Linked DNA regions of Homo sapiens: all the other regions are linked to region 2. Evidence: fine-mapped expression QTL. A gene starts in region 2. Each other region holds a variant in brackets. All regions are shown on one strand. Distances are from middle to middle. Region 1 overlaps LINC02235 (long intergenic non-protein coding RNA 2235). Region 2 holds the start of SNX16 (sorting nexin 16). Region 3 overlaps LINC02235 (long intergenic non-protein coding RNA 2235). Region 4 has its middle 61 kb from the start of FABP12.

Evidence for each region. PIP is the estimated chance that this variant, and not a neighbour inherited with it, causes the effect.
Region 1: its variant is fine-mapped to the expression of SNX16 in whole blood (TOPMed, PIP 0.96).
Region 3: its variant is fine-mapped to the expression of SNX16 in whole blood (TOPMed, PIP above 0.99).
Region 4: its variant is fine-mapped to the expression of SNX16 in whole blood (INTERVAL, PIP above 0.99).

Annotation. Positions count from the first base shown.
Region 1 is chr8:81,885,648-81,893,757 of GRCh38, forward strand. The region is part of intron 7 of LINC02235 (long intergenic non-protein coding RNA 2235); the gene reads left to right. Among named protein-coding and RNA genes, the nearest start is that of LINC02235, 47 kb to the left of the region's middle. The variant A/G (reference allele first, on the strand shown) is at 3,198.
Region 2 is chr8:81,838,326-81,846,435 of GRCh38, forward strand. It overlaps SNX16 (sorting nexin 16), which reads right to left and starts at 3,860. Exons shown (of 8, transcript NM_152836.3): 1 at 3,797-3,860; 2 at 1,287-1,757. The coding sequence starts at 1,661. It overlaps LINC02235 (long intergenic non-protein coding RNA 2235), which reads left to right and starts at 4,294. Exons shown (of 8, transcript NR_170320.1): 1 at 4,294-4,346; 2 at 6,126-6,246. RefSeq lists enhancers at 2,934-3,866, 3,794-3,843, 4,275-4,544 and a silencer at 3,414-3,463.
Region 3 is chr8:81,908,614-81,916,723 of GRCh38, forward strand. All of the region lies in intron 7 of LINC02235 (long intergenic non-protein coding RNA 2235), which reads left to right. Among named protein-coding and RNA genes, the nearest start is that of LINC02235, 70 kb to the left of the region's middle. The variant T/A (reference allele first, on the strand shown) is at 4,874.
Region 4 is chr8:81,590,707-81,598,816 of GRCh38, forward strand. No RefSeq gene overlaps it. Among named protein-coding and RNA genes, the nearest start is that of FABP12, 61 kb to the left of the region's middle. The variant G/A (reference allele first, on the strand shown) is at 4,650.

The DNA of each region.
Region 1 (8,110 bases), 47 kb after region 2:
TGGGTATCATACAAAGAAATTTGTTCTCATAGGTTTTGGGATGGAATGGGAGAGTCAAGTACCCAAATGAGAATGCACCCATGATGCAGATGCACATTTTCTGAAAGCTAGAAATGACTGCTACATAAAAAAGCTGGTTGCAGTGGCATATGCCTATGGTCCCAGCTACTCGGGAGGCTGAGTCAGGAGGATCACTTGAGCCGAGGAGCTCGAAGCTAGCCTGGGCAACATAGTGATAACTTATCTCTAAAATAAAAGAAAAGAAATGACTCCTATAACCAAAACCCTGGGAAAGTTAAGAGATCCAGGAGTGCCACAGGAAAGAGCTAGTGCCTTGTGCAGCCAGTGGCAAAGGGAAGCCAAGAAGCTGTTTGTCTCTCTCTTCATTTTGTCCCAACTGAAAGACCTTCCACAAATGGGAAAATTTGCATGGCATAAGCAACCTTAGTTCCTATATACCATTTACTGCCTTAATGCTTGTTATTTTTAATTTGAATGTTAATGACAACTTATTTTTAGAATCTTGTAAAAACTTGTAAATTGAATGTGTACTATGTGTTTTAATTATTGTTTTAATTTCTTGGGGAGGAATTCAAGGAAGCCTATTTAGACATGCAGCTACAATTCCTTATTATACATATATACCTATATGTACATACTATTGCTTATAATATTGATTTCCAAGATGATGTCGTTGAAAGGCCTTTAGATAGAAGACTTTGTTTTGGTCACAATATTACTATTAAATAGGAAGTAATTTCTCTTTGTAGGGCCTTTACCTTTTTTATGCTAAACAATAAACAAGTGTGTTAGGTAAAATAATTTCAGTCTCCATTCAGTAATATGAATTTATTAGTTTGTCTTAATTTAAGAAGATGGTGAAGAATAATAGAGAATCTGTAACTTAATTTTGCACAAAATGATTCTCATGTATATGTACTTTCTACTTGGTCACACACTGACATTTATGAGGAAATTGTATTAGGAGGTTTTGAATATTTCTTACCTATATAACTTGAAATAGATTGTGAAGAATCAATAAAATTATTGAAATAGTTTTCATTATAAAGGTGGAAAAATTTTCTGTATGATAACATAACACTTCAAATAAATTTAGGAATACTGCAAACGGATTAATGTAAAATTAAATTATTGAACTTCAGGCATATTATATAATTTCATTTTTATTCATGTGGAAGAATAGAAACATAAACTAGTGGAGATAGTAGAATATTTTAGAGAGAAATAGTCAATTTAAGTGCAAGTAACTAAGAATGATTGTTGATAGGTGTTAAAAAAAAAAGAACCTCCCCCCCATTTTGATAATTATTGTGAAAGGTAATATACTTATTTGAGAAAAAAGTATCTAAATATTTATCTTTTTTTCAGATTGAGAGTATATTATCTTAAATTGTGACTCAAATATTTTGTCATTCTTGATTACAGTTGAGATTTTACTTAATATTACATTACATAAACCATTAGCTGAGAATAATTGAAGCATATTGCAAACCACTAAACATAATAATCTTTTGTAAAGAGTGAAGACTGGAAATGAGTTTTCAATTTTTTATAACAAAATTCCATTAGTGGTGGTTTATATATTTTTAGCCAGAAAGTATTTTTGCCAAATAATATCATATGTAAAACTGCAACTTAGGAATAGATTGAAAAATTGATTAGAATGATGCTGGTGGACCCAGAGTCCAATTTTCTTGGCCACTTAGTTCTCTCCTTTTTTTCCACCCAACAAGGCTCAATACTCTAGAACTCTGGGCATTGGAAAAGCAGTTTGAAAATCAATACCTTATTGCATAAAGTATGTAACTGTAGTATATGCAGTAAATTATTCTATAAATGGAGACATTAGCCTATAATATAACCAATATTTGAGAGACATTTTTTTATTTATGCATATAAAATACAAGTGATTGTTTTCTTACTAATAGAAATTAAATCTTTGCATCCTAAAGAGAGTTTAGACTAGACTATGAAAAAAGGGTAGTCTAGTTTAAAATGGTGCTCCTGATTACTTAGAAATAATCAAATGAACTACGGAGCTTCTATGTAGGAAATCAATGTGCATTCTCAAGAAAATGAAATAAATTATTGCTCCCAAGTTTGCTCAAACTGCTGCATTAAAATCCTGGCTAGAATCAGATGGTTGTGAAAAACACAGCACTGTTGATTTATCAAAATACTAGAAAACATATTTTATTTTGGGATCTTTTTATTGAGTGTCTCACTTTGGAAAGATTTAAAATAACGAGTTTCAGATCTGGATGTTTCTCCGGATGTTAATGAACTGCTCAGATGTACTCAGGCGAGGTTAGCTGGAAATCTCTCCAACATGTTTGATGGCATTTATATAATGTGATTGTCTTCATAGAATGTTTACCACTGAGCATCTTCCCGAGAAGCAGTCAATAAACACTTGACTGATAGCTCACAGAGCTACTAAGCTAACAGATGTCTTTGTTGACAGTCTCAGTATAGCCAAAGCAGATTTACTCATCATTGTTTACAAGTTTTCCCATCTTCCCCAGTTTTCTGTCAGGCTTAGTCATAAACACTGTACCATCTTCTCTGAGCATGTAATCTCAGATTCACCGTACTTTTTCACTTCTCATGACTCTAGTAGTCAACAAATCAAGAAACGTTATCATTTCCCTAATTCCACAAAGCCATAACTGTATTTTTCAACCAAAACCTGCCCTTGAGTCAGAATTGGATTATTCCACAGGCAAACCAGGCAAAGGTCTGTTGGGCCTCAGATTAACTCGTATTTTTCCAGAAAGGGAGAGGCAGCATCACCAGCTAGCTGTAACAATATTCTTGTCCTTGATAATGACATCACACTGGATGACACCAATCCTTGAAAACCTTCAAGGTAGCTTGATGTTATGGAAATTACCCATGCCCCTGAGCAGATTTTATTAGACACTTTTATTTGTGAGCCAATGGTATAATCACATTGTGCTAGGAACAACTAGAGAGAAACCAAGCGTGCACAGTCTATCACGTTAAGAACCTAAATATGGCTTGAGTGGCATTATTGTATTGTGGTGAAGAACACAGACTCTAGAGCCAGATCGCCTGAGTTCAAATCCCTCTTCTGTTGCTTACTACCTGTGCAACCTTGAGCAAGTTAAATCTTTTATCTCTTGATTTCTATGTCTTAAATGAGGATTATGAAA[A/G]TAACTATCTCATGCAATTGTGATAATTAAATAAGTTAATATAGGTTACTTATAGGTCCCAAGTGCCTGACACGTAGTAAGCCCTATGTATATTTGCTACTGTACTTGACAGGGCACTTCTTTGTCTCTTTATTTCTCATTTGCTCATGCCACATATATTTTGAATTCATCAAGCTGAACTCCAAAAGCGGTAATGAGGAAAACACCTCTCTAGTATTTGTTTGTACTAACTGATGTACGTATGTGTGTGTATATGTATGTGTGTATGTATGTATGTGTGTGTTGCATTTGAAAGAGAAGGAGCTGAGAATAAAGCCAGCAGTTTGATATTTATCTGCAGGTCTATGGACTGGGTTTGAATGGCCATGTTTAAAAGACTGACAGAATGATAACTGTAAGAGAGATCTGGGAAGTGCCAAGCAGGCTGTGATGGTCAGAAGCTGAAGAAACTCTCCAGTGAGACTTTGTGAATAGCAAACAGTTACTCTGGAGTGTTGCAGAATAGCTTCTGAAGGCTGACTCTATTGATTAACCATCACTTACTGCACTTCACTTTAGTCTACTTGCCTAGTTCAAATAAATCGATACCCCCTTTAGTATTGGGCACTTGAACAAACAAACAAAAACATCCTATTTAGTGGGCACAAGCCCATAATAGGAAAAGCTAAGACTGAATAGTTTTTCAGGTCTCATTCTTCCACTTTTGGCTTCAGAGCAGAAAACCCTCGGTGATAGAATATTCTATCCCTGGAGCTTGGGCAGCTCCAGTGTGGTTCCTCCTAGGCCATGAGTAGCCAGGATCGATATCTTTTCAGTCCTGGGACAGTTGGAGAAAGGTCCATTCTGATGAATGCGTAATACCAATTGTAGCAGCCCAGTTGGTGAATAGAGCTCAGACCTTTCGAAGCATTTCCCCTACTGCCTTTCCAAAGACTTCTCTCTGTCAGGATCTTGCAGGTTCCTGTCTCTTAAGGCTGTCACAATGAGCTAATGACCCATTGGCTTATTTCCCCCTAGAATCGAGAAAGAGAAGGGAGGCCTCAATTACTGTGACGAGCCAGAAGACAGTAGCTTCTTGTTATTTGTGGTAATTGTGTTCTTATGTTTGAATTTTAATCAATCCAGTACATGTACGTAAGGAAAAATCAGTTTAAAAACTTATAGCAAACACAGTAGCTTTCTACCCCGCTCTTCTCCACCCCAGATCCTGCCCTTTAGAGGAGAGCTGCACGCGCTTCTTTGCATCTGTATAATTTCCACTATTTCTAAAGAATCTGCTTCTGCTGCTAGCTTTTGTTTTATTAATTTTAGGTATCTATTGGCTTCTGTTATTGTAGTTAAGGATGGATCTTATTTACATGACTTCCCCTTCCTACTGCCTCTCAATGTAGTTTTATCACTATTTTTGGTTTTCACTATCAATCTTTAGAATATTTTGACCACTGAACTACATGTAGATTGTACCATGATTATGTTTCATATCTTTCATGATAATTTTGACAGCTCTTGTTTGTTGTTCTCTACTCTCCTGTTTTCTTCATTCTTATGGAATTATATTTTTTCATTTATTTTCAATCTTGAGTAACTTGTTTTTGCTCCTTGAAAACTTGTAAAATTTTCTCTTTACCTTCTGTGTTAGTGTTCTGTGGTTGCTGTAATAAATTATCATAAATAGGGTGGCTTAAACAACAAAAAAATTATTCTCTTACAGTTCTGGAGAATAGAAGGCTGAAATCTGTATCACCTGGCCGAAATCAAGGTGTTGGCAGAGGTGCACTCCCTCTAGAGGCTCTAGGGGGGATTCCACCCTTTGCCTCTGCCAGCTCCTGAATGTGCTACAGACATTTGCTTTAAATGTTTAGGGGATTATTAAAATAGACGAGCAATGAATAGCCTTCAGAATAAATCTTGTTTTCCAGGCTCTGATGGCTGCTGGCATTCCTTGAGACTGGACATCACTCCAATCTCTGTCTCTGTGGTCACTTGGCCTTTTCTTCTGTGTGTAGTATCTATCTGATGCTCTCTTATACACACATATGATGGCATTTAGGCCCTATCCAGATAATTCAGGATAAATCTCACATCAAGATTCTCAATTTAATCACACCTGCAGACTTTACTATTCAAAGTAACATTCACAGGTGCCAGGGATTAGGAATTGCCATCTTTGTGGGTCATTATTCAGCATACTACACCTTCAAATTCCATTATTGCCATGTATGCCCTACTGTATGTCTTGTAAAATCTTCCTGAACCTCAGTAAGAACCTTAAACGTACAGATTCAAAACATTTTTTAAAATCACAAATTTTTTTCATTATAATGTCTTTAATTTTTTCTTTGTTACTTTTTCCCTGAAATTTCATGATTTATTTATTAGATATTTTAGATCTATTTTTTCCTTTTTCCTTATGATTAACTTCTCCATAAATTTTTTTTTCTTTTGAGATATGTTTTCCTCTGGATCTTTAAAGACACTAATTGGGTTATCAATAGTGGCCATTCTTTCAATTAAACTATTTAATTTTTTAAAGAAAAATATCTAGTAATTTTTGACTCACAGAAATCTCACGGTATTTAAATCATAGGTTCTTTATTTTTGGATGCTGTCTGATCTAGTAGTTTTGATGTTCTATTTGTTCTTTCTCTTCTTCTTTTTATGCTTATTGTTACTTTTTTTTTTTTTTTTTTTCTCTGTCTTGGGTGCATTGTGCTTTTATTCTTTTTCTTTACCATTGGGGCTTAGGTTTAGCTGCTGGGATATCTTAAAGTAGCCTCTGCTGCTATGGTCTTATTTCTTCACATCTAGTAATTTTTGATAGTGTACTAGATATTGTAAAACATATTTATAAAAGTATGATTTTTTTTCTTTAAAAGTTTGGATTTTGAGCTGGCAGGCAGGAAATTTACTGGTGGATCATCATAATTCTTTGAAACCTGTTTTTAAGCTATATCAACTTTATTAAAGGTCTAGGGTAGATCTTCTTCTATAGCTAGAGTAGTTCTGCTTCTAAGCTATGGCCTTTGTAAGAAGTCTCAACTGAGCGCCTGGGGTTTTTAGCAAGATCTTTCCATGGTTGCTGGTCAGAATTTCTATTTCTTCAACCAATTTGAAACCACAAAGATATACATTTTATTTCACAAATACCTAGCAGTTGTTCTCTACCATCTTCCTGAGTCTCACCATGTGCATGCACAGCTTTAGAATTTAGCCAATGTAGTAAGAGGACCCCTATATAGATTTGTGAGGTCTTTGTCTTCATGGCTTCCTTGTCTGCAGTAGCCAGTTCCACATACTTCAGCCTTCTTAGCAACTTTAAACATTGATTTTTGCTTCCTCAGCTCAATGATACTGCTGTGCTCTGCTTAACTTGCCTCCCTGCATTATAGTCTGGAAAGATTTCCCCTGTAGAAATTCAGGCCAATTATGGGGCTTACTTTGTGTGTTTCCTCTTTCTCAGGGATCAGAGTTTTGTGCTGCCTTTTGACTAATGTCTGACAATATCGCTATGTGTGTTGTCCAATTTTACAGTCATTTACCATGGGAGGAATAGTCTGGTACCAGTTACTTTATTATGTTTATAATCAGACATTTTCCTGCTGCCAATTTAATATATTCACTTGAATATTTTAAAGGCATTTCAAATGCAACATGACCAAGAAAAAAAAATTAATGGTCCTCTTTTCCCAAATCTGGTTCAGTTATACAAGTTGGAAACTTAGAAATCATCTTTGATGTCTCCTTCTTTCTCATCTTCCACATCTGGTGAATCATCAAGATACCTAAGTATCTCTTGAATTTATACTTCTCTCCATCTCCACCACTCACCTGTTAGATGAAGCATCATGTTGAAATAGCTTCCCAACTGATTTATTTAATAGTTAACTCTTGACTCCTCTATCAGTTTATCTTCTCATTGCAGCCTGGCTGATCTTGTTTAAAAGTCAACTGGGTCATGTTTTTCTCTTCTCCACATCTTGGTTTGAATCCTTCAATGGCTTTCCATTGGTCATAGAATGTGGGCAAAACTCCTTAACATGGCCTTGTAATCTCTGCATGATCTGTTCTCTACCTACTAGACAGCTTTGTTAAAGATCTCATTTACCTTACTCTCTTCACTTCATTCCATGAGATTTTGCTCATGCTATTTTCTTAGGAATGGTTTTCTTTCATCTATTTAGTTAATTTTCTCTCACCTTTTAGGACTCAGTCTTATTATTTATCTCTTCTTTACAGAAAATTCCTGACTAGGTCAAATTCCTAAATTAATATGTTCAAATTCATATATATCAATTGAAATTTCACATTTGTGTGACTTCTTTAATGTCTTATCCTCTGCTACAGTAAATACTATAAAAGCAGTTTCATTAATATTTTTTGCCCATACTTAGCAGAATGTCTGAAATAGAAGTGATAAAGTAATATTGCTTGAATAAGAAAATTTGCTCAAAATCAAGAAGATGGTAACTGTAGGTACATCACTGCCCATACCTGTTATCATATGAGAATTGCAGGCATAGTTTCCATTAGAAACATAAAGTTCATATTTATATCAGTGTCAGAAATGTCACAATACCAATTTCTATATTGGATGGCAGCTCTCTTTTAAGTAAATTCTGCTTATTATCAAATCATAAATAAATATTTAGAAGTTTCTTGCTGTTTTCAGAATTTAAATACTAAAATCCCAAAAGCAGGTATAAAAAGTATTTTTAACATCATACAAGTGTTAAATTTACACATAAAATGAACAACATCTAAAGTTACATTTAGTAGCAGTATACCATGATTCTATCATATTTATGTTAACTTATGCTGGTTTGCTTGTATGCCAGACACTATTTGAAGTGCTTTGAAAGTATTAACTCATTTAACTATTAAAGCAACATTATGAAGAAGGTATTATAATTATT
Region 2 (8,110 bases):
CAAAGGGTGAAGAATAGCCAAGGCCATCCTGAAGAAAAAAGCTAAAGTACATACACTGCTACATATCAAGACCTATTATAAGACTTTATTAATTAAGACAGTGTGAAATTAGTAAAGGATGAAAAAATAGAACACAGAAGCAGACCCATGCATTTATGGTCACATGATTTATGACACAGACAACACTGAAAATGAAGAGGAGAGAGAGTGGTCTTTCAAATAAAAGCCTGATTAATTGGTCCCATCTGGAAAAAAAAAAAAAAAAAGACTTGACCCTCACCTCACACCATGGACAAAAATCAATTCTGGTGGTTTACGAATCTAAATGTGAAAGGTCCAACAATAAAGATTTTAGAAGAAAACATAGGACAGTATCTTTGTAGCCTTGGAGTAGGCAAAGATTTCAAAAAGTGCTAGCCATTAAAAAAAGTAATAAATCAAGCCAAATTAAAATTAAGAACTTTTGTTTATCAAATGTATTATTAAGGAATTGAAAAGGCAAACCACAGAGTGAGAGGATAGTCATAATACATGTATCTGAAAAAAAAATTATATCCAAAGTGCACAGAAAACTACAAATCAAAAGGGAGACTTCCCAAAAGAAAAATGAACAAAAATCATGCACAGATATTTCACAAGAGAATATCCAAACAGCCCAAAAAAATTTTAAATTCAATTAGTCATTAAGAAAATTCAAATTAAAACCACAACCAATGTGATATTACTCTGTACCCATGAGAACAGCTGAAATGATAAAAATGTTAAAATATCACATGTTAGGAAGCTATGGATCAACTGGAACTCTTATATGCTGCTTTTAGGAGTATAAATCAGTACAACCATTCTGAAACACTGTTCACCAATATCTTTTAAAGCTGGGCATGTAATTTGGCAAGGCTAAAGAAAAGAGACCAGATGCAAAAAGAGTATATAATTCCATTTAGATAAAGTACAAAAATAGGCAAAATTAATCTAGGCTATACAAAAGTATTGGGTGAATGGGTCCTGACTGGCAGAGAACCTAGAGCATTTAAGATTCTAGTAACGTTCTTTTCCTTGATTTATGTGCTATTAATAGTTACATAGGTGTGTCTGGTTTGTGAAAATTTATTAAGGTAAAGCAAAAGTTTACTACAACATGATAGAATTCAGTGGTGTAAAAACCATTAGAATTTCATATTCAAGAAATTATAAGTACAAGTTTACATTAATTTAACACTGGTTTGAACACAGAGATTAGCCAATCTTTCACTTTGTAGTGTTATACAGCAGAAGTCAATACTTACAGTAAATTTAGCTCTTTCTTCCATCACTTCATAACCCAGTATAGTAGGTGTAGATGGTCTATCTTCCCAATTCACTGTTTCCGGATTTTGTTCTTCAGTGTCTCTTGGTCTAGTAGAATACTCAATGGAAGAAGCTGTACCTGTAAATTTAGTCCTAATGAGGGGACTGCTACAGACAGATGAAGTATTATCCATTTGATCAGGAACACTTGTCTGTTTAAAATTACCCATATTTGAGTCTTCTAACTGGCCCTTAGAAGAATTTGAGCTTGTTGAGACACTGCCAAAAGAAGAACTTCTTTGATTTCTGTTTGTTGTAAAACTGGAAGCAGAGTTTCCTATGGGCATAGGAACTGGGACATAAGGAGTTGCCATCTTCTTTTGGCTTTTCCAACAAGCTTGCACACTGTTGAGTCCACTTAGAGAACAACTAATATGCAATCCATTATTTTCTTCTTAGGAATTCACTATCTAAAAATGAAAAGGACATATTAAAAGGTTAGTCTTTAATGTGCAGCAGGATTCAAAAGAAAAGTATTCTTTTCAATTTTATGACACTATTATTTTATTTGGAATGAAAACATACCTCAAACCCCTTCTCCCAGTTGTCTTTAAGGACTCCTATTTGCAAGATAGAGAGAGCAAAACTACTTCACACTCTTTTTCCTTGACTCCATGTTACATGTTATCCCTTTTTCCTCTACTTTATTCCCTTGTGAAGTATTTCTGTAAAGTTCATTTTAACCTGATTTCATGTATGTAAAAGTTGGTAGGAGAAAGATTGGTAAAGACCCTTCTGAAGCTTTATTCCATGCTTATCATCTTGACAGTACTACATTCAGTACAAGAGAGAAAAAAGAAAAGGAAGAAAACTATTTACATTACCTCTGGATTTAATCAGAAAGGGAGGAAATCTATTCACATTACCTTTCAATTTAATTAGTGAAACTATAAAGATTTACACAGAGTAGTAACAATGAACCAGATGCTTTGATGCTACATAGTATAATTCTATAGAACCCAGGATTAAAAATACACACTTGGTCAAGTTACTCAAATAAAACCCAGTGAACACTGAACTTATATGCAACAAAATTAAATAGTGAAAATTGTAACCGTTCTTCACAGCTTACAGGTCATCACTAATTCTGCTCTACGATAAACTGAGGGTATTTAAATCTTTATAACTTACACTCAAGAATCTGTTATCAAACGGACCAGTATATCTTGTGTCAGAATAGTATCATAACACAAAGAAGAAATGGTTTACTATTACTTTGTTAAATAATAAACTCATAAGAAACTGTAACAACTACAGACCAACAAAATGACAAGACTACACACAACAATAACTGCCCAACTTTTCATACGAAACTCTACTGGTGGGAAAGGTAAGAAATGAGTCACCTGGACTTGGAAAGATGCTGAAATAAGATTTTTAACTCTGGGCTGGGCGCTGTGGCTCACGCCTGTAATCCCAGCACTTTGGGAGGATGAAGCGGGTGGATCGCCTGAGGTCAGGAGTTCGAGGCTAGCCTGGCCAACATGGTGAAACCCCGTCTCTACTAAAAATACAAAAATTAGCCGGGCATGGTGGCGCAGGCCTATAATCCCAGCTACTTGGGAGGCTGAGGCAGGAGAATCGCTTGAACCCGGGAGGCGGAGGTTGCAGTTTGCCGAGATCGTGCCATTGCACTCCAGCCTGGGCTACAAGAGGAAAACTCCGTCTCAAAAAAAAAAAAAAAAAAGATTTTTAACTCAAGTGGCTCTCGGCAACATTTCCCCATTATCAAAGATTCATGAAACTTTAGCTGCTGATTCACCGCTCCTCGGTTCCGCCTGACGGCCTCCCCAAAAACAAGTAAGTCTGAAATCTCAACCTTCTCAAGGTCCGAGGGATCTACCTGGCCTTTGCCACTCTACTACCTGAGGCCGCCTGGCTGGGGGGAGGTCGCATATCAATACATATCAACACAACCACTGACGTCCGAAGATGTGAGCGCTACCCAAGCGTTAAAAAAACAAAACAAGCAAACAAACAAACAAAAAAACGTGCTGTGCTCATTAGGAGCGTCTTCGCCTCTACCCTGATGCGGAGTTGCTCCCAGGACGCTCAGTTCATTCTCACTCTGGAAAACCTCAGGTGAGGTGGCCCGACTCTGAGCAACCCCGTGGGCGGGAGGAAAGAGGCAAATACCAGGCACAGTTCGACCCTCGGAAGGTAAGGCCGGGGTCTGCGCCGGTCACGGGTCTTCCGCACTGCAGGCGGCGAGACCCGCAGCTCCCTGGGATCACAGACTCTCCCGCCTCCGCTGACCGGTGCGCGCCCAGCGCCTCCCAGACGCACAGTGGGGTCGGCGGTGGCCTGAAGGTGGCTGGGCTTCCTGCGGCGCCTCTCCACTCTCCCGCGGAGCCCCTTGCCGCCCGCCAGACATCAAGGTTGCAGGTGTCACCCGTACGAGAACCCGGGACAGCGACCGCCTGTCCTGAGGTAATGACCCAGTCTTTACCTCAGCCCCCTCGGCGATCCCGAACGAGCGCGCTTCCCGGTGACGGTTAAACCGGACTCTCCTTAACCGCAGCTTTTCGCCTCCTCCCTCAGCAGCGAGAAGCCTCACGTGACACCCCCGCCCCAAAAGCAGCTGCTCCCCGCCTCAGCCAGTCTCTGCCCGGGCCCAAGATCCCTGCTGTGTGGAAGGAGGGGCCGAACTGGGCGGGGGGGGGGGGGGGGGGAGAGAGAGAGAGAGAGAGGGAGGGAGGGAGGGAGGGAGGGAGAGAGAGAGAGAGAGAGAGAGAGAGAGAGAGAGAGAGACAGAGACAGAGAGAAAGAGAGAGAGAGAGGGCAAGAGCGAGAGACAGAGAGAGAGAGAGAGAGAGAGAGAGAGAGAGAGAGAGAGAGAGAGAGAGAGAGAGAAAGAGAAAGAAAACGAGCGAGGGAGAGAGCGAGAGCGAGAGAGAGAGAGAGAGAGCGTCACACACACATCTCTGCCGGAAGTGATGTCACGGCATGGGCGCCCGCCCACCGGAGGAGCGACTGGAGTTGATCGGCTGGGCGCTCAGGTAGCGAAGATAAATGTAATCTTGTGGCAGGAAATCGACATTCTCTGCACTATCTTTAGTTTTCCAACTGAACTTCTGAGAAATGGAGGCTACAATACCTAGTTTGCCAAACAGGAGAAGACTACAATTCCCAGAAGGAACTGCGACCAACATTGGTCCGTGCTCATACTTTGCATCATGGGACTTGTAGTCATCACCAGCTTGCGCTGATTCTAACAGGTTATAGATTGTTTTCTAGAATTAGCAGCGCTTTAAGGGATGACAATCGATTAGAAGAGTAGGAAGATAGAACACTGCTTAGTAGCTGATCCGTTCTACATAATTCAGAAGTTCTCATTGGCAGAGAACCCCTGAAATTCTGTAGTGTCTTTTTACTATCCGGTGAGCAATTTGATCCCGATGATGGAATATTAGCCTTGTTAGACATGCGCTTCTGAAGACCTGTGCAGTAGGGAAAGCCGAGTTTTTTGATAGGCAAATCCCAAGATTCAGACCGGTCTACAGGTCTGTTCATCATTAGAATCAGATAATGTGGTTGAAAAATCATTCCACGATTTCTAAGGCTTTTGTATAGTCCCAATGTTACCCATGGAGGGTCTTGACTACAAGTCATCCAGGTTCTTGGTTTTTTTAACAAAGAATTGGACAAAACGCACAAAGAAAGCAAGGAAAGAATGAAGCAAGGAAAGCAGAGATTGAAATGACTGTACACTCCACAGAGTGGGAATGGCCTCCAGCCAGTGGCTCAAGAGCCCTGGTTACAGGATTTTCTGGAGTTTAAATATCCGCTAGAGATTTCCCATTGGTTACTTGGTTTACACCCTCTGTAAATTAAGGAGTAGCCTGCAACCAATCAGAGGCTAAAGTTAAGTTACAAAGTTGTACTCCTATGGAAATGAAGACTAGGCCCAGATACCAAGGGCCTAGAAGGTTGGGCAGGGGGTTGCAAAGGGAATAGCCTCTGGTCTTTTTGTTACTTGGGCTTGGAAAGTTGGAGTTTTCCTTTTGATTTAGTTCTAGGAAGTCAGCGTGAATGGGCCTTAGGTTCCCTGCCTCCGGACCCTATTCTACTGCCCGACTAAGAGTGAGAAAAGGTGATAGTGGTCATTTTGAAATGAAGGTTGGAAAATAGTCTGGTTTGTGACATGATGATGGTTTTGGTTTAAGAGATTCTGCCCTTTTAGTGTGAATGAAATAAAAATAGAATTCTGTAGAAACAATGTTAGGTAGGAGAATAGGGTCTGGAAACAGGGGACCTAAGGCTGATTCATGCTGACTGATATCAGAGGCGACTCCATTTTCAACCCCTCTTTTTTCTGCGTGGCAGTTGCTGCGTGGCAGTTGCAACCCTCCTTTCTTTGGGTGGCAGTTGAAAAATGAAAGAACCTCTGATAGAGCCCCTCCCTCAACCAATCAGACTGGTTGAGGGCCTACTTTTCACTCTGATTGGTCTCCTTCCACAACCAATCAGACTGGGCATAGGCCAATGGGAACCCTCTAGAGGGTATTTAAGCCCCAGAAAATTCTGTAGCTGATGCTCTTGAACCCCTTGACTGAGTCTGTTTTCCTTCTGTGGAGTATACTTTCATTTAAAATAAATCTCTGCTTTCCATGCCTTGTTTGTGTGTTCTGTCCAATTCTTCGTTCAAAACACCAAGAACCTGGACAACTACCCTCAATTGGTAACATATTTTGGTGAGCCAGCCAGAAGGTAAGCCCAAAGTTTGGGATTTGTATTTTTCTTTTTCCTCTTTCTCTCTCTCCCTTTTCCTTTCCAAGCTGGGATCCTTGATGGACAGTGCCTAAGCATGGAGGCAACTGCAGGTTTCTGGCCAGGGCCACTCTCTGGTGAAACTAAAAGGTCCATGTGGAAGCACCTGACTGCCACCACCTGGTTCAGGTGAGGAACCTGAGTTCTTTTCTTTTTCAGTCTTTCAGTGGCCATTTCCTAGTAGCTCCTTGGTAACTGAAGGCAACTGGGGCCACTCTCTGGTGTTAACTGAAGGCCCAGGAGTGAATGGGGATAGCTGCCTTGCCCAGAAAGGGGAAGGACTCTTTTCTGTCTTTTCCAGTTGTAGTCCCTGATGCCTATGAGTGATGCAATTGGCAGTGGCAGCCTGTCCAGGGAAAATTCACACATGTTTCAGGTGGCTTAAGCCTTCTTTCCTTATGTTAAATTCTTCCGTCCCCCTACTTGACTGGCTAAGGATAAGTCACAGAGTTTGGGCATATTGTGGTCTGTGTAACTCATGGAGGGGATTCATGAAAGGGAATCTATGTACAATTTAATCTTGTCCAAATTTAGAAAGTTAAAGAATTGTTTTAAGTGTGATAGGAAAAAAAATCCAAAGGTTTGTCTGAAAGTTAATTCTAGAAGTAGAGACCTTCATCCAGGGACAAGAGGGAAAACTCACAGTGGGTCATCAGTGGTGGTTGGAATCATTCCAAAGTGGTGGTGGCACCAATCTAAGGTCAGAGACGTCTAATGTACTAAGAGGGGTCTCTGGCACTAGAGGATTGACTGCACCCGCTCCCACCAAGGGGCTCAGTTAGGCAAAAGTCTAGCAGTGTGAAAGGAGGAATTAGATGAAGACTGAAGGGGCCTAGAGTCTTCCTCACTGCCCCTGTCCAGGAACATCATAATTACTATTGCAGAGCCCTGGGTAACTAGATGTCATGGGTACCCAAATTCAGTTTTTTTTTTCCAATACAGGGGCGAATTACTCTGTCCTTACTGCTTATGCAGGAAAACTTTCCTCCCAGTCTAAGAGTGTTCCGGGAATGGAAGGAAAGCCACAAACGAGATTCTTTACTTCTCCTTTGTCAGTTTGAGAAACAAATGTTCCAACATAAATCTTTAGTAGTTCCAAGCTGCCTTGTCCACCTGTTGGGAAGCGATATTATCATTAAAATAGGGGCACTACTACAAATTTAAGCATTACCCAGTAAAATTGCTAATAGTCAAAAATACAGACAATATCCCAGACCACATTAATAAACAGGTTAACCTGCTAGCATGTTATGCTGGGAAGCCAGGTGTATTAGTCCATTTTCACACTGCTGATAAGGACAAACTCGAGACTGGATGATTTACAAAAGAAAGAAATTTAATGGACTTGCAGTTCCATATAGCTGGGGAGGCCTCCAATCATGGTGGAAGGCAAGGGAGGAGCAAGTCACATCCTACGTGGATGGTAGTAGGCAAAGAGAGAGGTTGTGCAGGCAAACTCCCTCTTATAAAACTCTCAGATCTTGTGAGGCTTGTTCATGATCATGAGAACAGCAAGGGAAAGACCTTCCCCTATGATTCAATTACCTCCCACTGGGTGTCTCCTATAACATGTGGGAATTCAAGATGAGATTTGGGTGGAGACACAGCCAAACCATATCACCAGGGAAAGCTAAAACAGCAGTGCCAGTCAAAATACCAGTTTAAAGACCCCAGCTATTGCCCCAATTGAAAACAATACCCATTTAAGCTGGAAGCAAGAAAAGGCCTGGCATCCATAGTTGAGATATTGCTTACCCATGAGCTCTTAAAAACCTGCAATTCTCCCTGAAACACCCCCATCTTAACCATTCTAAAGCCCTTGAGGGAATACCTGCTAGTACAGGATTTCAGAATAATTTATCACACTGTTATCCCCGTCCACCCATTGGTGGTGGATCCATATACCCTCCTGGCTTAGGTGCCAGGGGATGCAAAATGTTTCTCCTAGACCTAAAAGATGCTTTCATCTCTATTCCTCTGGCCCCAGAATCCC
Region 3 (8,110 bases), 70 kb after region 2:
CCAGTTAGAATGGTGATTATTAAAAAGTCAGGAAACAATAGATGCTGGCAAGGCTGTGGATAAATAGTAATGCTTTTAAACTGTTGGTGGGAATGTAAATTAGTTCAACCATCGTAGAAGATAGTATAGTGATTCGTCAAGGATCTAGAACCAGAAATACCATTTGACCCAGCAATCCCATTATTGGGTATATACCCAAAGGAATATAAATCATTCTACTATAAAGACACATGCATACGTATGTTTATTGCAGCACTATTTACAATAGCAAAGACATGGATCCAACCCAAATGCCCATCAATGATAGACTGAATAAACAAAATGTGGCACAAATATACCATGGAATACTGTGCAGCCACAAAAAGGAATGAGATCATGTCCTTTGCAGGGACATGGATGAAATTCAACAAAATTATGTTTTAGGGTAAAGATTTTGTTGTCCATAAGCCATTCTCTTGGAAGGAATTTATGAAGGAAGCCATCTAGAGAGATATGTGGCTTCCTATCTTTGTAGTTATCTGTTTAGAAACAAAAAGGAAGGTAGATTTTGTGTGACTCTGTTCCCAAGCTGAACTTCCCTTTGATATAGTGAGTTTGGTGTCCCAAAATTTTATTTTCCTTTCACAGTCTCAGTGAACTTTTGGGACAATATCAAGTAGTCTATCAAATGTGTATTTTCAGTCCCAGAGAAGGGAAAAGCAGAATAAAAATTATTTAAAGTCCAAGACAATTTACATCTCTCACTATGCATTTAATGATCTAGCTTTTGCCTGTCTTTCAAGTTTCAAATCTAAACCATTTCCTGACATTCCGTTTTCTCTTCAGTTCACTACATGACTCAGTTTATCGCACATACCATGCTATTTCTTATCTCTATATCTCTGTTCATTCTACAGTCTGTGCCTAGAATGCTTCTAACTCTCATCCTATGCAACCTAATTCCTACTTTTAAGTTCCAACCCATGTGTCATCTCCAAGGAACCTTTCTTTATACTTTCCATTCATTTTCCACCCAACAAGAGATAGTTGTACTCTTTGGTGCTTCCAGAAATACTTTTGCATATCTCTAGTGCTGCATTAAGCCATTATATTGCTGAGATCTGTTTTTCAGTCTTTTTTGTTTAATGCTAGAAGGACTATGTGTAATACATGTTTGTATCTCCAGCACTTAGTAGAAGGATTGGCATAAGATTATTTAAAGAATAAATAAGTAATGACTTCATTGATCTGGCTCTGGGTCTAAGGTTGATACACATACCATTAACAATAATAAAATACCATTAACAATAATAAAAATCAAATTTCCCTTAAATCTCATTCATTATGGCTTATATATTTGAAAATAAAAATATATTATAAATAATGAGTCTACATTTAAAATCTGAATATTATATTTTGGTAACTTATTTGTCATATGTATGTATATGGTAGAAATACATGTATTTTTCACTGCACAAAGCTTCAGTAAATAAGTCCAGGAATCCAGATGAGGAATTATGGAATCTATAATTCAAACACTTTCAAATTTTAATATGTCCAAAGAACCTTTGGGAGACTAATTAAAATGTAGTTTACCTTGCCTGATATCCAGAAATTCTGATTCAGTAAATCTAGACAACAGCTTAGAAATTTGCATTAAATAGTAACTACTCAGGAGATTCTGTTGTAAACGATATATAATGTCTGGTAGATACAAATATTTATGATCTATTGATAAAAAATTGATTCTTTAAGTTGTAGTTAGAGAAATGTCATTTAACAGTATATCCTACATTTTCACTTTACTAGATAAGAAAAAATTGAGGTTTAAAAGACCAACATTTACAAAAACTCTCTTCTGAAATAACATACGTTAACTACATTAATTTTAAAGTTCTGAATACATTTCACACTTCAGCAGTTAATGGAGACTGGTATGAACGTTTTCATAGACACAGGAAGAAAAAGCAAGCAGAATAATTCTCTTTATTATATTTTAAAATTTGTTTTCTAAAGAAGAAAACATTGTCTTTAAAATTTTTGTTTGATTTGGAGCACTAGATTCCTGGAGGAACAAATTGTCATTGAAGGCTCATGAATAAAAGGCTGAAGGGAGACTGCTGTAATCTATGTGCTCAGCAGTCGCTACAGTTAAGAGCAAGATTTCCCACCTGATTGCTCCATTCTAAATATTGTATTAACTCAGTTACTTAAGGGTATTTTAGAAAACAAGTTAATGGGCAATCTTGTCATATTATATTATATGCAGCAATCATGCTGCGTTGAATGGCCATATAAAAGAGAAACTTTAGAAAAATTGAGCCAAATTAGAGAATAAGAGAGTTAAAGAGTTGTTTTTACACACAAAGTTACAAGCCATGAAATGTCTTATAGAATATTACATTTGGCCTATGTAATTTTGGCAAACAATTTACTGATGGAATCTCAAAAGTGTATTATTTTGGATAAAAATTTGAATTTAATTCATTCTTTTTGATTATACTAAGTTTCTCACATCATAGTTTACATTGCATATTCACGAGTTCTCTGAGAAAGCCACTTATCTACTTTTCCACCAATCCATCTATTTATAAATTTAATATTTAAATGTATTCATGTTAGAAATGCAAAATGCTTGTTTCTTGGTGCTGCAAAGAAATAGCACTCGAACATAAATTTAATTCTCTCAGCAAGGCAATTTTTACTTCTATAGAAGGGTGCGACTTGTGAATGGAGTAATGGCAAGAGCATACCTGGACAGGGGAGGGGAAAGAGTTCTTATTCCTGATGCAGGTAGCCCCTACTGCTGTGTTGTTCCCCTATTGGCTACGGTTGGATGGCACAGTCTAAGCTAATTCTGATTGGCTATTTTAAAGAGGTCAGGGGTATGAGCCAGAGTGGTGGGGTGAGTAGTTTGGTGGGAAGGACGTTTAGGAACAGGTAACTAGAGGTGACTTAGGTCAGAGCAGGTGACCAGGAGTGACTTAGGTCAAAGCAGCTGATCAGGATGAGTCAGGATGGAGCAGGTGACCAGGGAACAGATGTGAACTACTAATTAGGACTGGTGGGAAAGTTGTTTACTGAAATTAGAAGCAAGGGAGCGAACAGAACCAGGAAGTTAAACTTTAAAATGGAGAATAAAAGAATAACAGAGCTGAACATATGAAGAGTAACTTGGGGTTCATTATATTTAACATTCACAAAACTTGGAAATGAAATTCTCCAAGAAGATGGTATTTCAATTCTAAAGGGTCCTAAAACCCATATCTCAATATAGACCAGGTGTGGTAGAATCTTGAGTCATTTTCAGTCAGGTCGATTCTACTCTCTATTCCTCAAAAGGCCAGATAATTCCTTTCTTGGATCAGACTACTGAGGGTCTCATTGGATATCTGATTCATGGGTCAGCAGATATGGAATATGTAATTGCCACCATAAAAATTATAGAAAAGAGGAAAACAAATGTCAATTTGAACATAAAAATGAATATTAATGGCCCATTGAAACCAATATAATATTGAACCACATGATTCCATCACCCCCATTTTCCATGCAAATCTCTATGTCAATCTTTTTTGATTCATGTAGGTTTTCATATTCCTTTTCTTTTTTTAATACTTTATTCATTATGGGAATTGATTTAAATTTATTTTTATTAAAATATGCTTAATAAAAATTTAAATCACTTATAAGTAAACTCTTTTTTAAACTTTTAATTTTTAGTTTTAGATTCAAGGAGTACATATTTATGATTGTTACATGGGTACATTGCCTACTAGTGGGGACTGGCCTTCTAGTGTACCCATTACTCAAATAGTGGGCATTGTAACCCGCAGGTAAGTTTTCAATCCTCACCCTTACTCCCACCCTCCTTCCTTTTGGAGTCCCCGGTGTCTATTATTTCCACGTTTATGTCCATGACTTACAAGTAAACTCTTAAAATATGTTCACCCTGAAGGAAAGTAGAGTATCTCACCCCAAAATATACTTTTTTGGCATATTTTGAGATGGATATTCAGAGGGGCTACAGACAAAGGAATAGTTCTGAAGAGTTGTCCTTTTGTGGAGGAGATTTACATCTGTAGAGGAAATCTACATTAGCGAAGTAAACAGTAGATGCGAACAGGATTTCTCTGAGACCTTATCTACATTATCTTGATCTAGGAAAGATTAACTTAGGAAAAAGAGACACTTTTGAAGTTCTAACAGAGAAACTTTCACTATAGGCTATTATCTAATCTGAGAGCTGCTACCTGAGAGATTTCATTTGCATAACAAGATACTTTTTGCTTGATATGCAATTCCTCCCCTCTCCCTCCCATAACTGATCTCCATGTTCCAAGCCTCTATTCCTTTCCATATGGTATTAAAACTTCAGTACTCTCAAAGAAATGTGAGATTTCTTTGAGTCTCATACTTTTGTGTGTGGTCCCCATGCCTATGCATACAATGAGTTTTGTTTTTCTCCTGATAATCTATTGTGCCAACCTAAAATAATCAAAAGAGTCAGAATCTAATTTAAAGAGAGTTTATTCAAGTGCAGAATTTAAGGATAGCCTTCTTGGAAATACCAACTTCTAAGGGATGGAATTAGAATTCAGAAGTAGGAAAGTTTAGGTTTCATTTAGATAGGCAGAGGGAGATGAGTTTTAGCAGGATTACAACATTTTACATACAAGGCTAGAGCATAATTACAGCAATGTGATTGGTTACAGATGGTTTTTCTTTTGGGGAAGGGTATATTTAACACTTTTTACGGAAGGCATAATAGTCATGGGTTTTCTGTCATCTGGTCTAAGCAAAGCAGGACAACAAATGAGAAATTAATCTGTAACAAGGGTCACTAAAAGGCAGAGGTTTGTGTCCCTGATATCATTTAATTCTGTCTAGTCAC[T/A]GTGAAGAAAAAGATAAATAAGAAAGTGAGTTAATTTATAATCTGAGAAATAGAAGTTGTAACCATATGTGACTCAGATCACAGTCACATCTTTCTTAAGGCTTAAAGTGTTTTGGGGGTTCCAACAGCTTTTAAATTGTGTTTATTTTCAAAATTGTCAAATAATTTCAGCAGACTTAGACTCAAATTTTCAGAGGCAAAGTTTCAACTTCCCTAAAACCCTTAGTTTTGCCTTTCCCATGCACTGGTTAATTGTGGTTTATGCCTAACTACCTCCTGTATCAATCTTGAGTTTTAGAGAATGTTTCCAGAAGGGATTAAGGCACCTTTGAATTCTATTTAGTACTGGTCCAACAGATCGTTAATTACCCTTTCCTTATTTTTCTTTGTAGGACCAATAATCATCCTTTTCTTTTGATGCCTGGTTTATATATTTGAGCTCAGCTCTAGTAAAATCTACCTGCCACTCTTACTCTTTTATGCATAAATCTTTGTTTTGAGCTGTGTAGCAGCTTGCTTAAACATGGTGGCTTTGGAATCAGACTGCCTTGGTTTAAATCCCTATCCTATCACTTGCTAGGTATGAACAATTTAGATATCCTTTCTAAGTATTGGTTTAAAAATCTATAAAATGAGGATTCTTTGAGGTTTAATTGAGATAGTAGAGGCAAAATACCTGGCACATAATAAATATTCAATACATGTAATTCATAGTTGATATCATTGCTATTATTATGGTAGGTAACTAGTCATAAATAAGCAGGGCAAGAGAGGCTCCCCATCCCACCAGAAATGTCAGGCAACCATCAGGTGATGGTCAGGTAGTTGTTAAACTGCCTCTCTAAAATAATAATTGGTCACAGCCAGTGCCAGGGAAAGGCAGTCTCCCAATAAACAGAAAAACCTGAAACTGATGATCAGCAGTGCCAGGCCTCTGAGCCCAAGCCTCCACGTATACATCCAGATGGCCTGAAGAAAGTGAAGAATCACAAAAGACATGAAAATGGCTGGTTCCTGCCTTAACTGATGACATTACCTTGTGAAATTCCTTCTCTCCTTGTCTCTACCCTCTCTTTTCTCTCCACTTTCCTGGGGGGCAAGCACCCCCCACCACTTCTCTCCATGTCTCTACCCTTTCTTTTCTCTGGGCTTGCCTCCTTCACTATGGGCAAACTTCCACCCTCCATTCCTCCCTCTTCTCCCTTAGCCTGTGTTCTCAAAACTTAAAACCTCTTCAACTCACACCTGACCTAAACCTAAATGCCTTATTTTCTTCTGAAATGCCTCTTGACCCCAATACAAACCCAACAATAGTTCCAAATAGCCAGAAAATGGCACTTTTGATTTTTCCATCCTACAAGATCTAGATAATTCTTGTTGTAAAATGGGCAAATGGTCTGAGGTGTCTGACGTCCAGGCATTCTTTTACACATCGGTCCCTCCCTAGTCTCTGTTCCCAATGCGTTTCGTCCCAAATCCTCCTTCTTTCCCTCCTGCCTGTGCCCTCAGTCCCAACCCCAAGCATTGCTGAGTCTTTTCAATCTTCCTTTTCTACCGATCCATCTGACCTCTCCCCTCATCCCCAGACTGCTCCTCAGGTCACTCCCCACCAGGCTGAATCAGACTCCAATTCTTCCTCAGATTCTGCTCCTCCACCCTGTAATCCTTCTATCACCTCCTCTCCCCACACCCAGTCTGGCTTACAGTTTTGTTCCACAACTAGCCCTCCCCCACCTGCCCAACAATTTCCTCTTAAAGAGGTGGCTAGAGCTGAAGGCATAGCCAAGGTTAATGCTCCATTTTCTTTATTTGACCTCTCCCAAATCAGTTAGTGTTTAGGCTCTTTTTCATCAAATATGAAAAACCCAGCCTGGTTCATGGCCCGTTTGGCAGCAATCCTGAGATGCTTTACAGCCCTAGACCCAGAAGGGCCAGAAGTCCATCTTATTCTCAATATGCATTTTGTTACCCAGTCAGCTCCTGACATAAAAAAAAAAAAGCTCCAAAAATTAGATTCCAGCCCTCAAACCCCACCACAGGACTTAATTAACCTTGCCTTCAAGGTGTACAATAATAGAGACAGCCAAGTAGCAATGTATTTCTGAGTTGCAATTCCTTGCTTCCACTGTGAGAGAAACTCCAGCCACATCTCCAGCACACAAGAACTTCAAAACGCCTAAGCCACAGTGGTCAGGGCTTCCTTCAGGACCTCCTCCCCCTGGATCTTAATTCAAGTGCCAGAAATCTGGCCACTGGGCCAAGGAATGCCCCCAGCCCAGGATTCCTCCTAAGCCATGTCCCATCTGTGTGGGATCCCACTGGAAATCGGACTGTCCAACTCGCCTAGCAGCCTCTGGAACTCTGGCCCAAGGCTCTCTGACTGACTCCTTCCCAGATCTTCTCAGCTTAGCGGCTGAAGACTGATGCTGCCCAATTGCCTAGAAAGCCTCCTGGAACATCACAGACACTTTAGGTAACTCTTACAGTGGAGGGTAAGTCCATCCCCTGTTTAATCAATACGGAGGCTACCCACTCCACATTACCTTCTTTTCAAAGGCATGTTTCCCTTGCCCCCATAACTGTTGTAGGTATTGACAGTCAAGCTTCAAAACCCCTTAAAACTCCCCCACTCTTGTGCCAACTTGGACAATATTCTTTTATGCACTCTTTTTTAGTTATTCCCACCTGCCCAGTTCCCTTATTAGGCCGAGATATTTTAACCAAATTATCTGCTTCCATGAGTATTCCTGGACTACAGCCACATCTCATTGCCACCCTTCTTCCCAACCCAAAGCCTCCTTCACATCTTCCTCTCATATCCCCCCAGCTTAACCCACAAGTATAGGACACCTCTACTCCCTCCCTGGTAACCGATCACACATCCATTACTATCCCATTAAAACCTAATCACCCTTACCACACTCAACACCAATATCCCATCCCGCAGCACGCTTTAAAAGGATTAAAGCCTGTTATCACTCGCCTGTTACAGCATGGCCTTTTAAAGCCTATTAACTCTCCTTACAATTCCCCCATTTTACCTGTCCAAAAACTGGACAAGCCTTACAGGTTAGTTCAGGATCTGTGCCTTATCAACCAAATTGTCTTGCCTATCCACCCCGTGGTGCCAAACCCATATACTCTCCTATCCTCAATACCTCCCTCCACAACCCCTCCAAAACCCATTATTCTGCTCTGGGTCTCAAACATGCTTTCTTTACTGTTCCTTTGCACCCT
Region 4 (8,110 bases), 250 kb before region 2:
AGTTCAAACGATTCTCCTGCCTCAGCCTCCTAAGTAGCTGGGACTATAGGCGCGTGCCACCATGCCCGGCTAATATTTGTATTTTTAGTAGAGATGAGGTTTCACCTTGTTTGCCAGGCTGGTCTCAAACGCATGACCTCAGGTGATCCGCCCACCTCGGCCTCCAAAAGTGCTGGGATTACAAGCGTGAGCCACCCCTCCCAGCCTGAGACTATTTATTTTAACCATCTACTTAAATAAAAATGTGCAGGACAGGCCATTAGATCTCATCATTGTTCCACTAACTCATCATTTTAAAACAGCTTCATCTGAGCTTGGGAAACACTGACTTATGTTAAGTAATAGCCTCCCTCTAGTGGATAAAGATGGGAGGAGCAGACTGAGTTTTTTTTGGTTTTTGTTTTGGATTCCCCAAAAGCTAGACTTTGTTAGATTCAATTTATCAAGGCTCCAGCAAGCAATGTTGAACTTCTTTGTGGTTTAATTTCATCTGCATTGTTGTATTTTATTTCCATTATGGTTCTCTTCATCCTTGAAGTCATTCAGCTAATAAATATTTATTGGATACCTGCGATGTGTCAGGCACGGTTCCATGCCCTGGAGATACAGCAGTGAGTGAACAAAACAATTTGAAATCCTGTCTTTGGGAAACTTAAAACAATATTAGATTGTTATCATCATGTGCTTTCTACATGCCAGACTATGTACTTAGTTGTTTGCAATTATTATTAAATTGAGTCTTTCCAACAGTCATGTTTGAAAACTGAGAAGCTAAGAAACTTGCCCAAGATCACACAGAAACTGACGGACCAGAACACCTCAGGAACTTCTCTGACCATGTGGTCAATTACAGACAACCCAGTAATTCTGAGTGGCCCTGTCTTGATTTTCATTGTGTTATGCTTTTTTTAATTGTCTGCTTCTCCAACTAACATCATTATAACCCTAGCACCTGAAACCTTCCACTGGGTTCTCCAGAAACACCTGGTTAAATGACTTAAGGATAATGAAATAAATGAACAAAGAGTCAAACTCTGGACTATTTGACAGCAAAGCCCTTCTCACCGATGTCTCCACTGCCTGCATGAGTGTCCAGAAAACAGAAAGCAACCCCTTCCTGGATGGCTCAGTTGAATTATTTCAGAGCTATATGTCGACTCCATTTTCTTAAAGAGTAGGTGAAGAAAATGAGTCTAACATAAGTGAGATCTGATTCTGTGGAAGATTTTTAAATCTTTAGCCCTTTTCCTGTTTAGAAAAAAAAAAAAGTGCAGCTCGCTGCCAGTGCTCATTTTATTTTACATAAACTTGCTCTTTGAGGCTGAAGCAAATCTCACTGATTTTCAACATGAAAATACAATGTAAAAATTGTTCTTTGAATTATCTCTAAACAGAACTAATATGAAAACTGTCTGAATCATTAAAACTATTTTGGAAAAATCTGATTCATCAAATGAATCTTTGGCCAACAACTGTTCAAGAACAACGGTAGGAATACCATGTTTTTTTAGGATTTGACATTTTCAGTGAATGAGAATTACTGTATTTTGTACATGGAAATACCACCTCTAAAAACAGAATGCTATAAATAGAATGATGGATTTTGCTTCCAAAGTCACTATACTAGAGAGATGTGAAAATAATAATAAAAGTGAGATACTTCATGGAAGTTATCTCGGAGTAAATGCTGCAGCTGTCAGCGCCACTGGCAATTACTCTCAGGGAGAATGGGAAAGGGGTTAAACAGGTTCTCATTTGCCAACTCTCCTGGGTTTTACCACTAGAAGAATCAGGGAGAAGCTAAAGGTGCCTTCAACTTTTGGAGGAATGTATTCCCCTGAAAGGGCCTATTCTGCTGTGGGCAGCAGGAACTTACCAGAGAGGAATAGATTCAAAACCCGCTAGAGATATCATCTATTGGAATTTGGCAATGATTAAAGAGATGGTGATGCAGGACCAGATGTGGGAATGAGTTCTTTTGGGGACATGATGAACTTTAAGCAAGTATAGGAAGTCCAGGTAGAGATGCCCAGAGGGCAGCTGGAAGAGCCACCTGAGTTTGGGAAGGGAGAATTAGGAAGATTAAGAGTTATCTGCTGAGAGATGATAGTTGACATTGTAGAAGAGGTGACTGCAGAAAGGCAGGAGGATAAGATGATTTAGAAACAATTTTTCCTTAGAGGATCTTCTTAGTGTGGATCCAACCTATTGGGGAAAGATTTATCAAGGAAGTTGTTATATGAGCTGGACAGAAATGAGCTGCCCTTGCATGTGCAGCAAAACCTGCTGTGAGTAGAATCTAATGCCAGTATAAAGGAGCCCGTTTGCATGGTACTATTTTGTTATTCTATAGTAGTTATTTCATCAATCATTATATGCTCTATACCATTACTTGCCACTAACCAAGTAACTTGAGAGTGTCATAGCTATCATTCAAATCTATTAATCTTTCTTGGTGTGTTTAAAAGTCATTAGCGTTCTGGCCAATTGCAGAATAGTAAATATTGAAAGAGTTGTCTTACCATTTGAAGTGTTTTCTGGCTACAATAAATATTTGTTCAGGTTGTAGCACTGCCTGGGTAATCACTAGGTAAAAAGGCAGGATCAACTTCCAGTGCTAGAACAAGCAGAAAAAATTACTAGGTGCAGGAACAGGTTTTATGGTGGATCTCTCTTAACCTACTCTTTATGTTTGAATTTTAAAGAGGAATTATCATTGTCTGCTCACATTACACAATGCACAGTAAAACAAACCAAAAAGAACAAATGAAAAAGGGCTTATTTTAGGACAACAGTTTTAAAAAACAAAACAAAACAAAAACCAAAACAGGGTGATCCTGAATATTGCAAATCAAGAGGCCCAGCCTGTCATCCAAACCTCATTAAATTCACAGAAGTGGTTCTTCCCTCCTTGTCAAGCTTTTTCTGTACACGGAGTTTTGAAAGATAAGCTTGCCAATTGATTCTCTGCAGTTCTTTCTTCATCTCACCCTGATTGTTTTCTCCAGTCAGATTAGGGTGATAACTGACAACAAACATCTTAATTAGAGAGGTCAAGATATCAGTTTCTGGTAGGTTAAAATGCTCTTAGAGTCACTATTTTTATTTTGCATGTAACAACCTCTTTGATAAACCTTTCTTCAAGAGGCTAGATTCACACTAAGTAGATGCTCTGAGGATCCTTCGTCTCTGATTTCATCTTTCTGCTTTAGTGCAAACACCTGTCCTACAGTGTTAACTATCACCTCTCAGCAGACAACTCTGTCTTCCTAATTCTCCTTCCCACACTCAGTTGGCGATTCCAGCTGCCCTCTGGATATCTCTACCTTAATTTCCTACTCTTACTTGAAGCTCAGCATGTGCCAAAAAGAACTCATCTCCAAATCTGCTCCTGCACCACAATGTCCCTAATGATTGCCAAAATCCCATGGATGATATCTCTACCAAGGATTTTTGATCTGTCCCTGTCCTGTGAGTTCCTGCTGCCCACAGTCAAGTTGCCCTCATTCATCATTTCTTGGACTATTATAAAAGCCTTTTAACTGGCTTCTATTATTTCTGAATACACTTCTGTCTGCATGCTGCCATTCATCAATCTCTGAATCCGGTGTGCAAGTTGCCATTAATCTCTCTGCTGTTCAACAGCCTTGAGCAGCCCAGCCTGGCATCCAGGACCCTGTGCAATAGGGTGTCTCCCAATATGTTCTTAAACCTAAGTGCATGCTCCCTAAACCAGAGTTCTCGCCCTTCCCTAAACTAATCAGTCTTTCCCTGTCTCCCAGGGTTTTCTTATACTATTTCTTCTTCATGATATGCCAGTCACATCTCTATCTTTCTGGATTTCATCCATTCTTTAAGGCCTTCAAGTTCAAAAGCCAACTTTTCCACAAAGTATTTCCAATTCCTCCTGGGAGTTTTCCCTCCAAATCTTTATCACACATTGTTGTCTAATTTCATCAAACCTTCCTTATTTTTTTTCTTGGTATTAGGGTTATTAATATAATTTTTATTAATTTATAATGTTTTATTTATTAATAAGACACATTAATTTATGTGTCTTCTTCCCCCTATACCCACACACCCCCATGCTGGATGTGGTACAGCAATGAGGCGTGAAGAGAAAATAAGTCTCAGGACCACTAAATCACTAAGCCAAAGGGAAAAGTCAAGCTGGGAACTGCGTAACAGGCAAAGCTGCCTCCCATTTAATTCCTAAATAAGATGGCTACAAAGATTTTTAAAAGCTACATACCTCTCTCACAATTTTCTCACTAGGAGATTCCTTGTGGTCCCCAAGATCCTTACCCTAAAACAGTTCTGTCGAATTTCACACTGACAATGTAAATTGATAGATACGGGAGAAAGGATAGAACTCAAAGTCATCCCTCAGCTCAACTGAGACAAATGCATATCTGATTGCTTCCTTTGCCCTGTGTTTATTTTATCTTATGTAAAAATGCAGGTTCACTGAGTCAGATAAATGCAAAAGTGACTATTCTGGCCGGGCGCGGTGGCTCACGCCTGTAATCCCAGCACTTTGGGAGGCCGAGGCGGGCAGATCACGAGGTCAGGAGATCAAGACCATCCTGGCTAACACGGTGAAACCCCGTCTCTACTAAAAATACAAAACAAAATTAGCCGGGCGCGGT[G/A]GTGGGCGCCTGTAGTCCCAGCTACTCGGGAGGCTGAGGCAGGAGAATGGCGTGAACCCGGGAGGCGGAGCTTGCAGTGAGCCGAGATCGCGCCACTGCACTCCAGCCTGGGCGACAGAGCAAGACTCCATCTCAAAAAAAAACAAAGTGACTATTCTTCTGCCCACCTCTCACATGTGAAAGGCTGATCAAAGATTCAAAAGAATGCAACCATTTGCCTCTTATCTACTCACACCTTTTAAATATTTTTCCCCTTTCTCCACTACCCTTCCCCCTTTAAATATTGAAGCTCTCAAAATCATCTTTGAAGAAAGGCACAGACCTGTCACCCAGGTGCATGTCCTTAACTTTGGCAAAATAAACTTCTAAATTGATTGAGACATATCTCAGATACCTTTTTGTTTACACAGGAAAAAGCAGGTGCTTTGAATCCTAATTCTAACACCTATCTGCATAGTCAGGAGTAGTTTCCTTATCCATTCTAGACTTATTTTTTTCTTATTTGTGAGAAGGGAGTAATGCTCAACTTTTTCAAATTAAATTAAATCATGTATATTAACTACCAGGTACTCACTAAATGCTCCTCTTATTAACTATAATTATCCAGAGGGGGAGCACTCAGCCTTCTCATCTCCAGACCCCTGCAATGCCCTGCCCATACCTCCAGAAAACAGGTGCTCAGAAGCTTGGTTGAACTGAAGGAATTTGTCTTTAGGTGGGTCCCTTTGCTTAATACTTACCTCAGAATTTAGAAGCAGTTTGGCAAGCCCTGTGCTGATTGATGGAGCACTAAAGGATATTTCCCCATTAAATTAGTCAGACTTGGGTTTCAGCTGGATGAAAATGGCCCAATTCTTGCCCAATTATTATAAAGCTGCTGTTGGTATGATGAAGCCTAGCTGTCATTATGTTTCAGAAAAGATGAAGGCATGTGACAAGTAAGTATTTAAAAAAGTGAAAACACAGTAAATGCAATGACGCCCAAAAACCTCAATCCTGGTTTCCAAGGCAGAAAGTGGCACTACACTGCGTCCTCTAATGGCTTCTGGGAGTCATTTAGCTGAGAGGTCTCAAATTTTGGTCTCACTGGAGGTTCCTCATGGAAATGACTGGGGAGAGTAAAACAAAATAAGAAAATCTGTATTTTCCAGCTGTAACACATGGCCAATCATCAGACAGATAAATCAGACCGTCCCCAGTCCCGATGTGGTACAATTTCCTGACTTAACTCCATTTGTAGTGATTCTCACAGGCAGGGAGGTTGCGGTACAGATAGAAAGGCTAGAACGAATTTTCCCTTATGGAAACATTTCAAAACAATCTAGGGGTAGCCTTCACTGCCAGTAATTCTGAGAATCATTCTTTAAAGCTCCTATAAATTAGTGGCTTTATGGTGATTAGCTAGCAAGTAATGAATACAAGACAGTGATTAAGGAGGAAAGGTTTATGCCCAAGCAAGAAAAGTCACAAATGGGGAAAAGTTGTCTCACCAAACATCCAAGCCACTGTTTCAGAAGTTTTCTAGCTGGTACCATGAGTTTAATAAAGAGAAAATAGGACATATAGTTGCTTTATGACAGTAAAATAAAAAAGTCATTCACTGATCAACAAGTACTGTATTTCTCTAGTACATATGCACAACCTCCTCCTCCATACTTCCAGCACAAGTGAGCATACACACACACACACACACACACACACACACAGCTTTCTCCAGGTCTGCCAAGGGTGCTTACTCTGCACCAATTGCCAAGAATACCTTGTTCTCTACAGAAGCTGAGTGTAATCATTATTTTTCTATTTGTCTGGCTATCTACCTGCCTGTTTCTTGCCCTGTTTCAAAAAATCATTTTAGATGGCTATATGGATATATAACATAACAAGAACTTAAATTAGAAGTGAGATAAAAATAGAAATAAAAACAAATCAAAGATGAAAACACAGCAGACAGAGAAATAACTAAAAAGCATAATGCTCCACACAATTGCTACCAGGGAATCACAAATTTGTCTATAAGTTTTCCAGTGGCCACATTTGAAGAGAAACCTAGTCAATTACATAATTCTGGTCTATAAGAGAGATTCCCAAAGTTTTGTGTGCATCTGAGTCACCTGAAGAGCTTATAAAATGATAACCATAATTTCAAATTCTGTAGCTCTGTGGTAGGCTCCTAGAATGTATAATTTAAGCAAGTTCCCATTGACCTTGGAGATGAACACATAAGGACTCGGGAAAAGAACAGTTTTTTTTTATATTAAAATCTTAAAATCATAGTGAACTTTCTTCTAGGGAGTAACAAAGAGAACCTTGTGAGATACAATGAACATTCTTACAGTGATGCAAAATGAGTTTCAGAGGTCACTGGCTGCTGCTTACAATAACATTCAAATAGGCTTTCACAGAGCTTTGTAAAAGTAATTATATTGAGATTTGGTGAAAGTGGAAATGAGGGCAAACTATATAATAGTGTTTCCCAGGAACTTGATTTTTGCCAAATTGGCTTGACCCAGGATAGGAACTAAAAAGGACTTTATAACTACTCAGTGTCAACTTTATACCAAGCAAAAAGGTAAGAACCCCTTAGTAACTATCCCAGCAAAGCATACAAGCTTCAGGTCAGCACCGAGGCTGATCTACAAACTATAATGTGGTTTTGAAGGAGTGTAATCTAATTAATCTTGTCTTTAAAGTTTATTCTCCTTCAGGGCTTTAGTTGTGATGGAGGGAGGAGGCAGAGAGAGCCTGAATGGAAGGGACTGAGTAAATCCCCACTATGGGGATTGCTCTTCGTGAAGACTGTTTTAGTGGGCTAAAACAGTCTTTAGCCCACTTTAGTGAAGTTTGTTTTTAGTGGGCTAAAATCATCCAAATTTCTCAGTATGATAAAGTTGTCAATATAGATGCATTTTACATAATCATTTAAATTTCCTTCATTTCAGTTTTATAGCAGAAAATATTTGTTTTATTATATTTTTCACATCTCATATCTGTCAGTTTGATCTGAAATGACTGCAAGATTTTGGGGTGCTTCATGGGGTTTTGTTTTGCTTTGTTTTGTTTTTTAACAAATCAAGTATTATATGAGCTGGTCCTTTATGTGAAAAGGAGAAAATCTGGACTACTTTTAGACTATCTATTATTTGCAGGTGCGCATAAAATTATGGCCCTCAAACCTGAGTATAAAATAGCATAAGAGAGATGCTATTAGATATTAAGATTTCATTCATTTATTCAACAAGTATTTATAAGAACTTGGTATTTGCCAAGCACTGTGCCAGATAATTAGAGTACAAGAATGAGCAAAACACTGCCTCCACAGTGTTTATAGTCATGTCCTTACAGGCAAAATGCAATTATAACATAGTGTGGTAAGTGGTCTGAATGAAGAAATGCAGAAGACTCAGGAGAGGAAATAAACCCACCCTTGGGTTGTCAGGAAAGGCTTCTTGAAGGAAGTCACA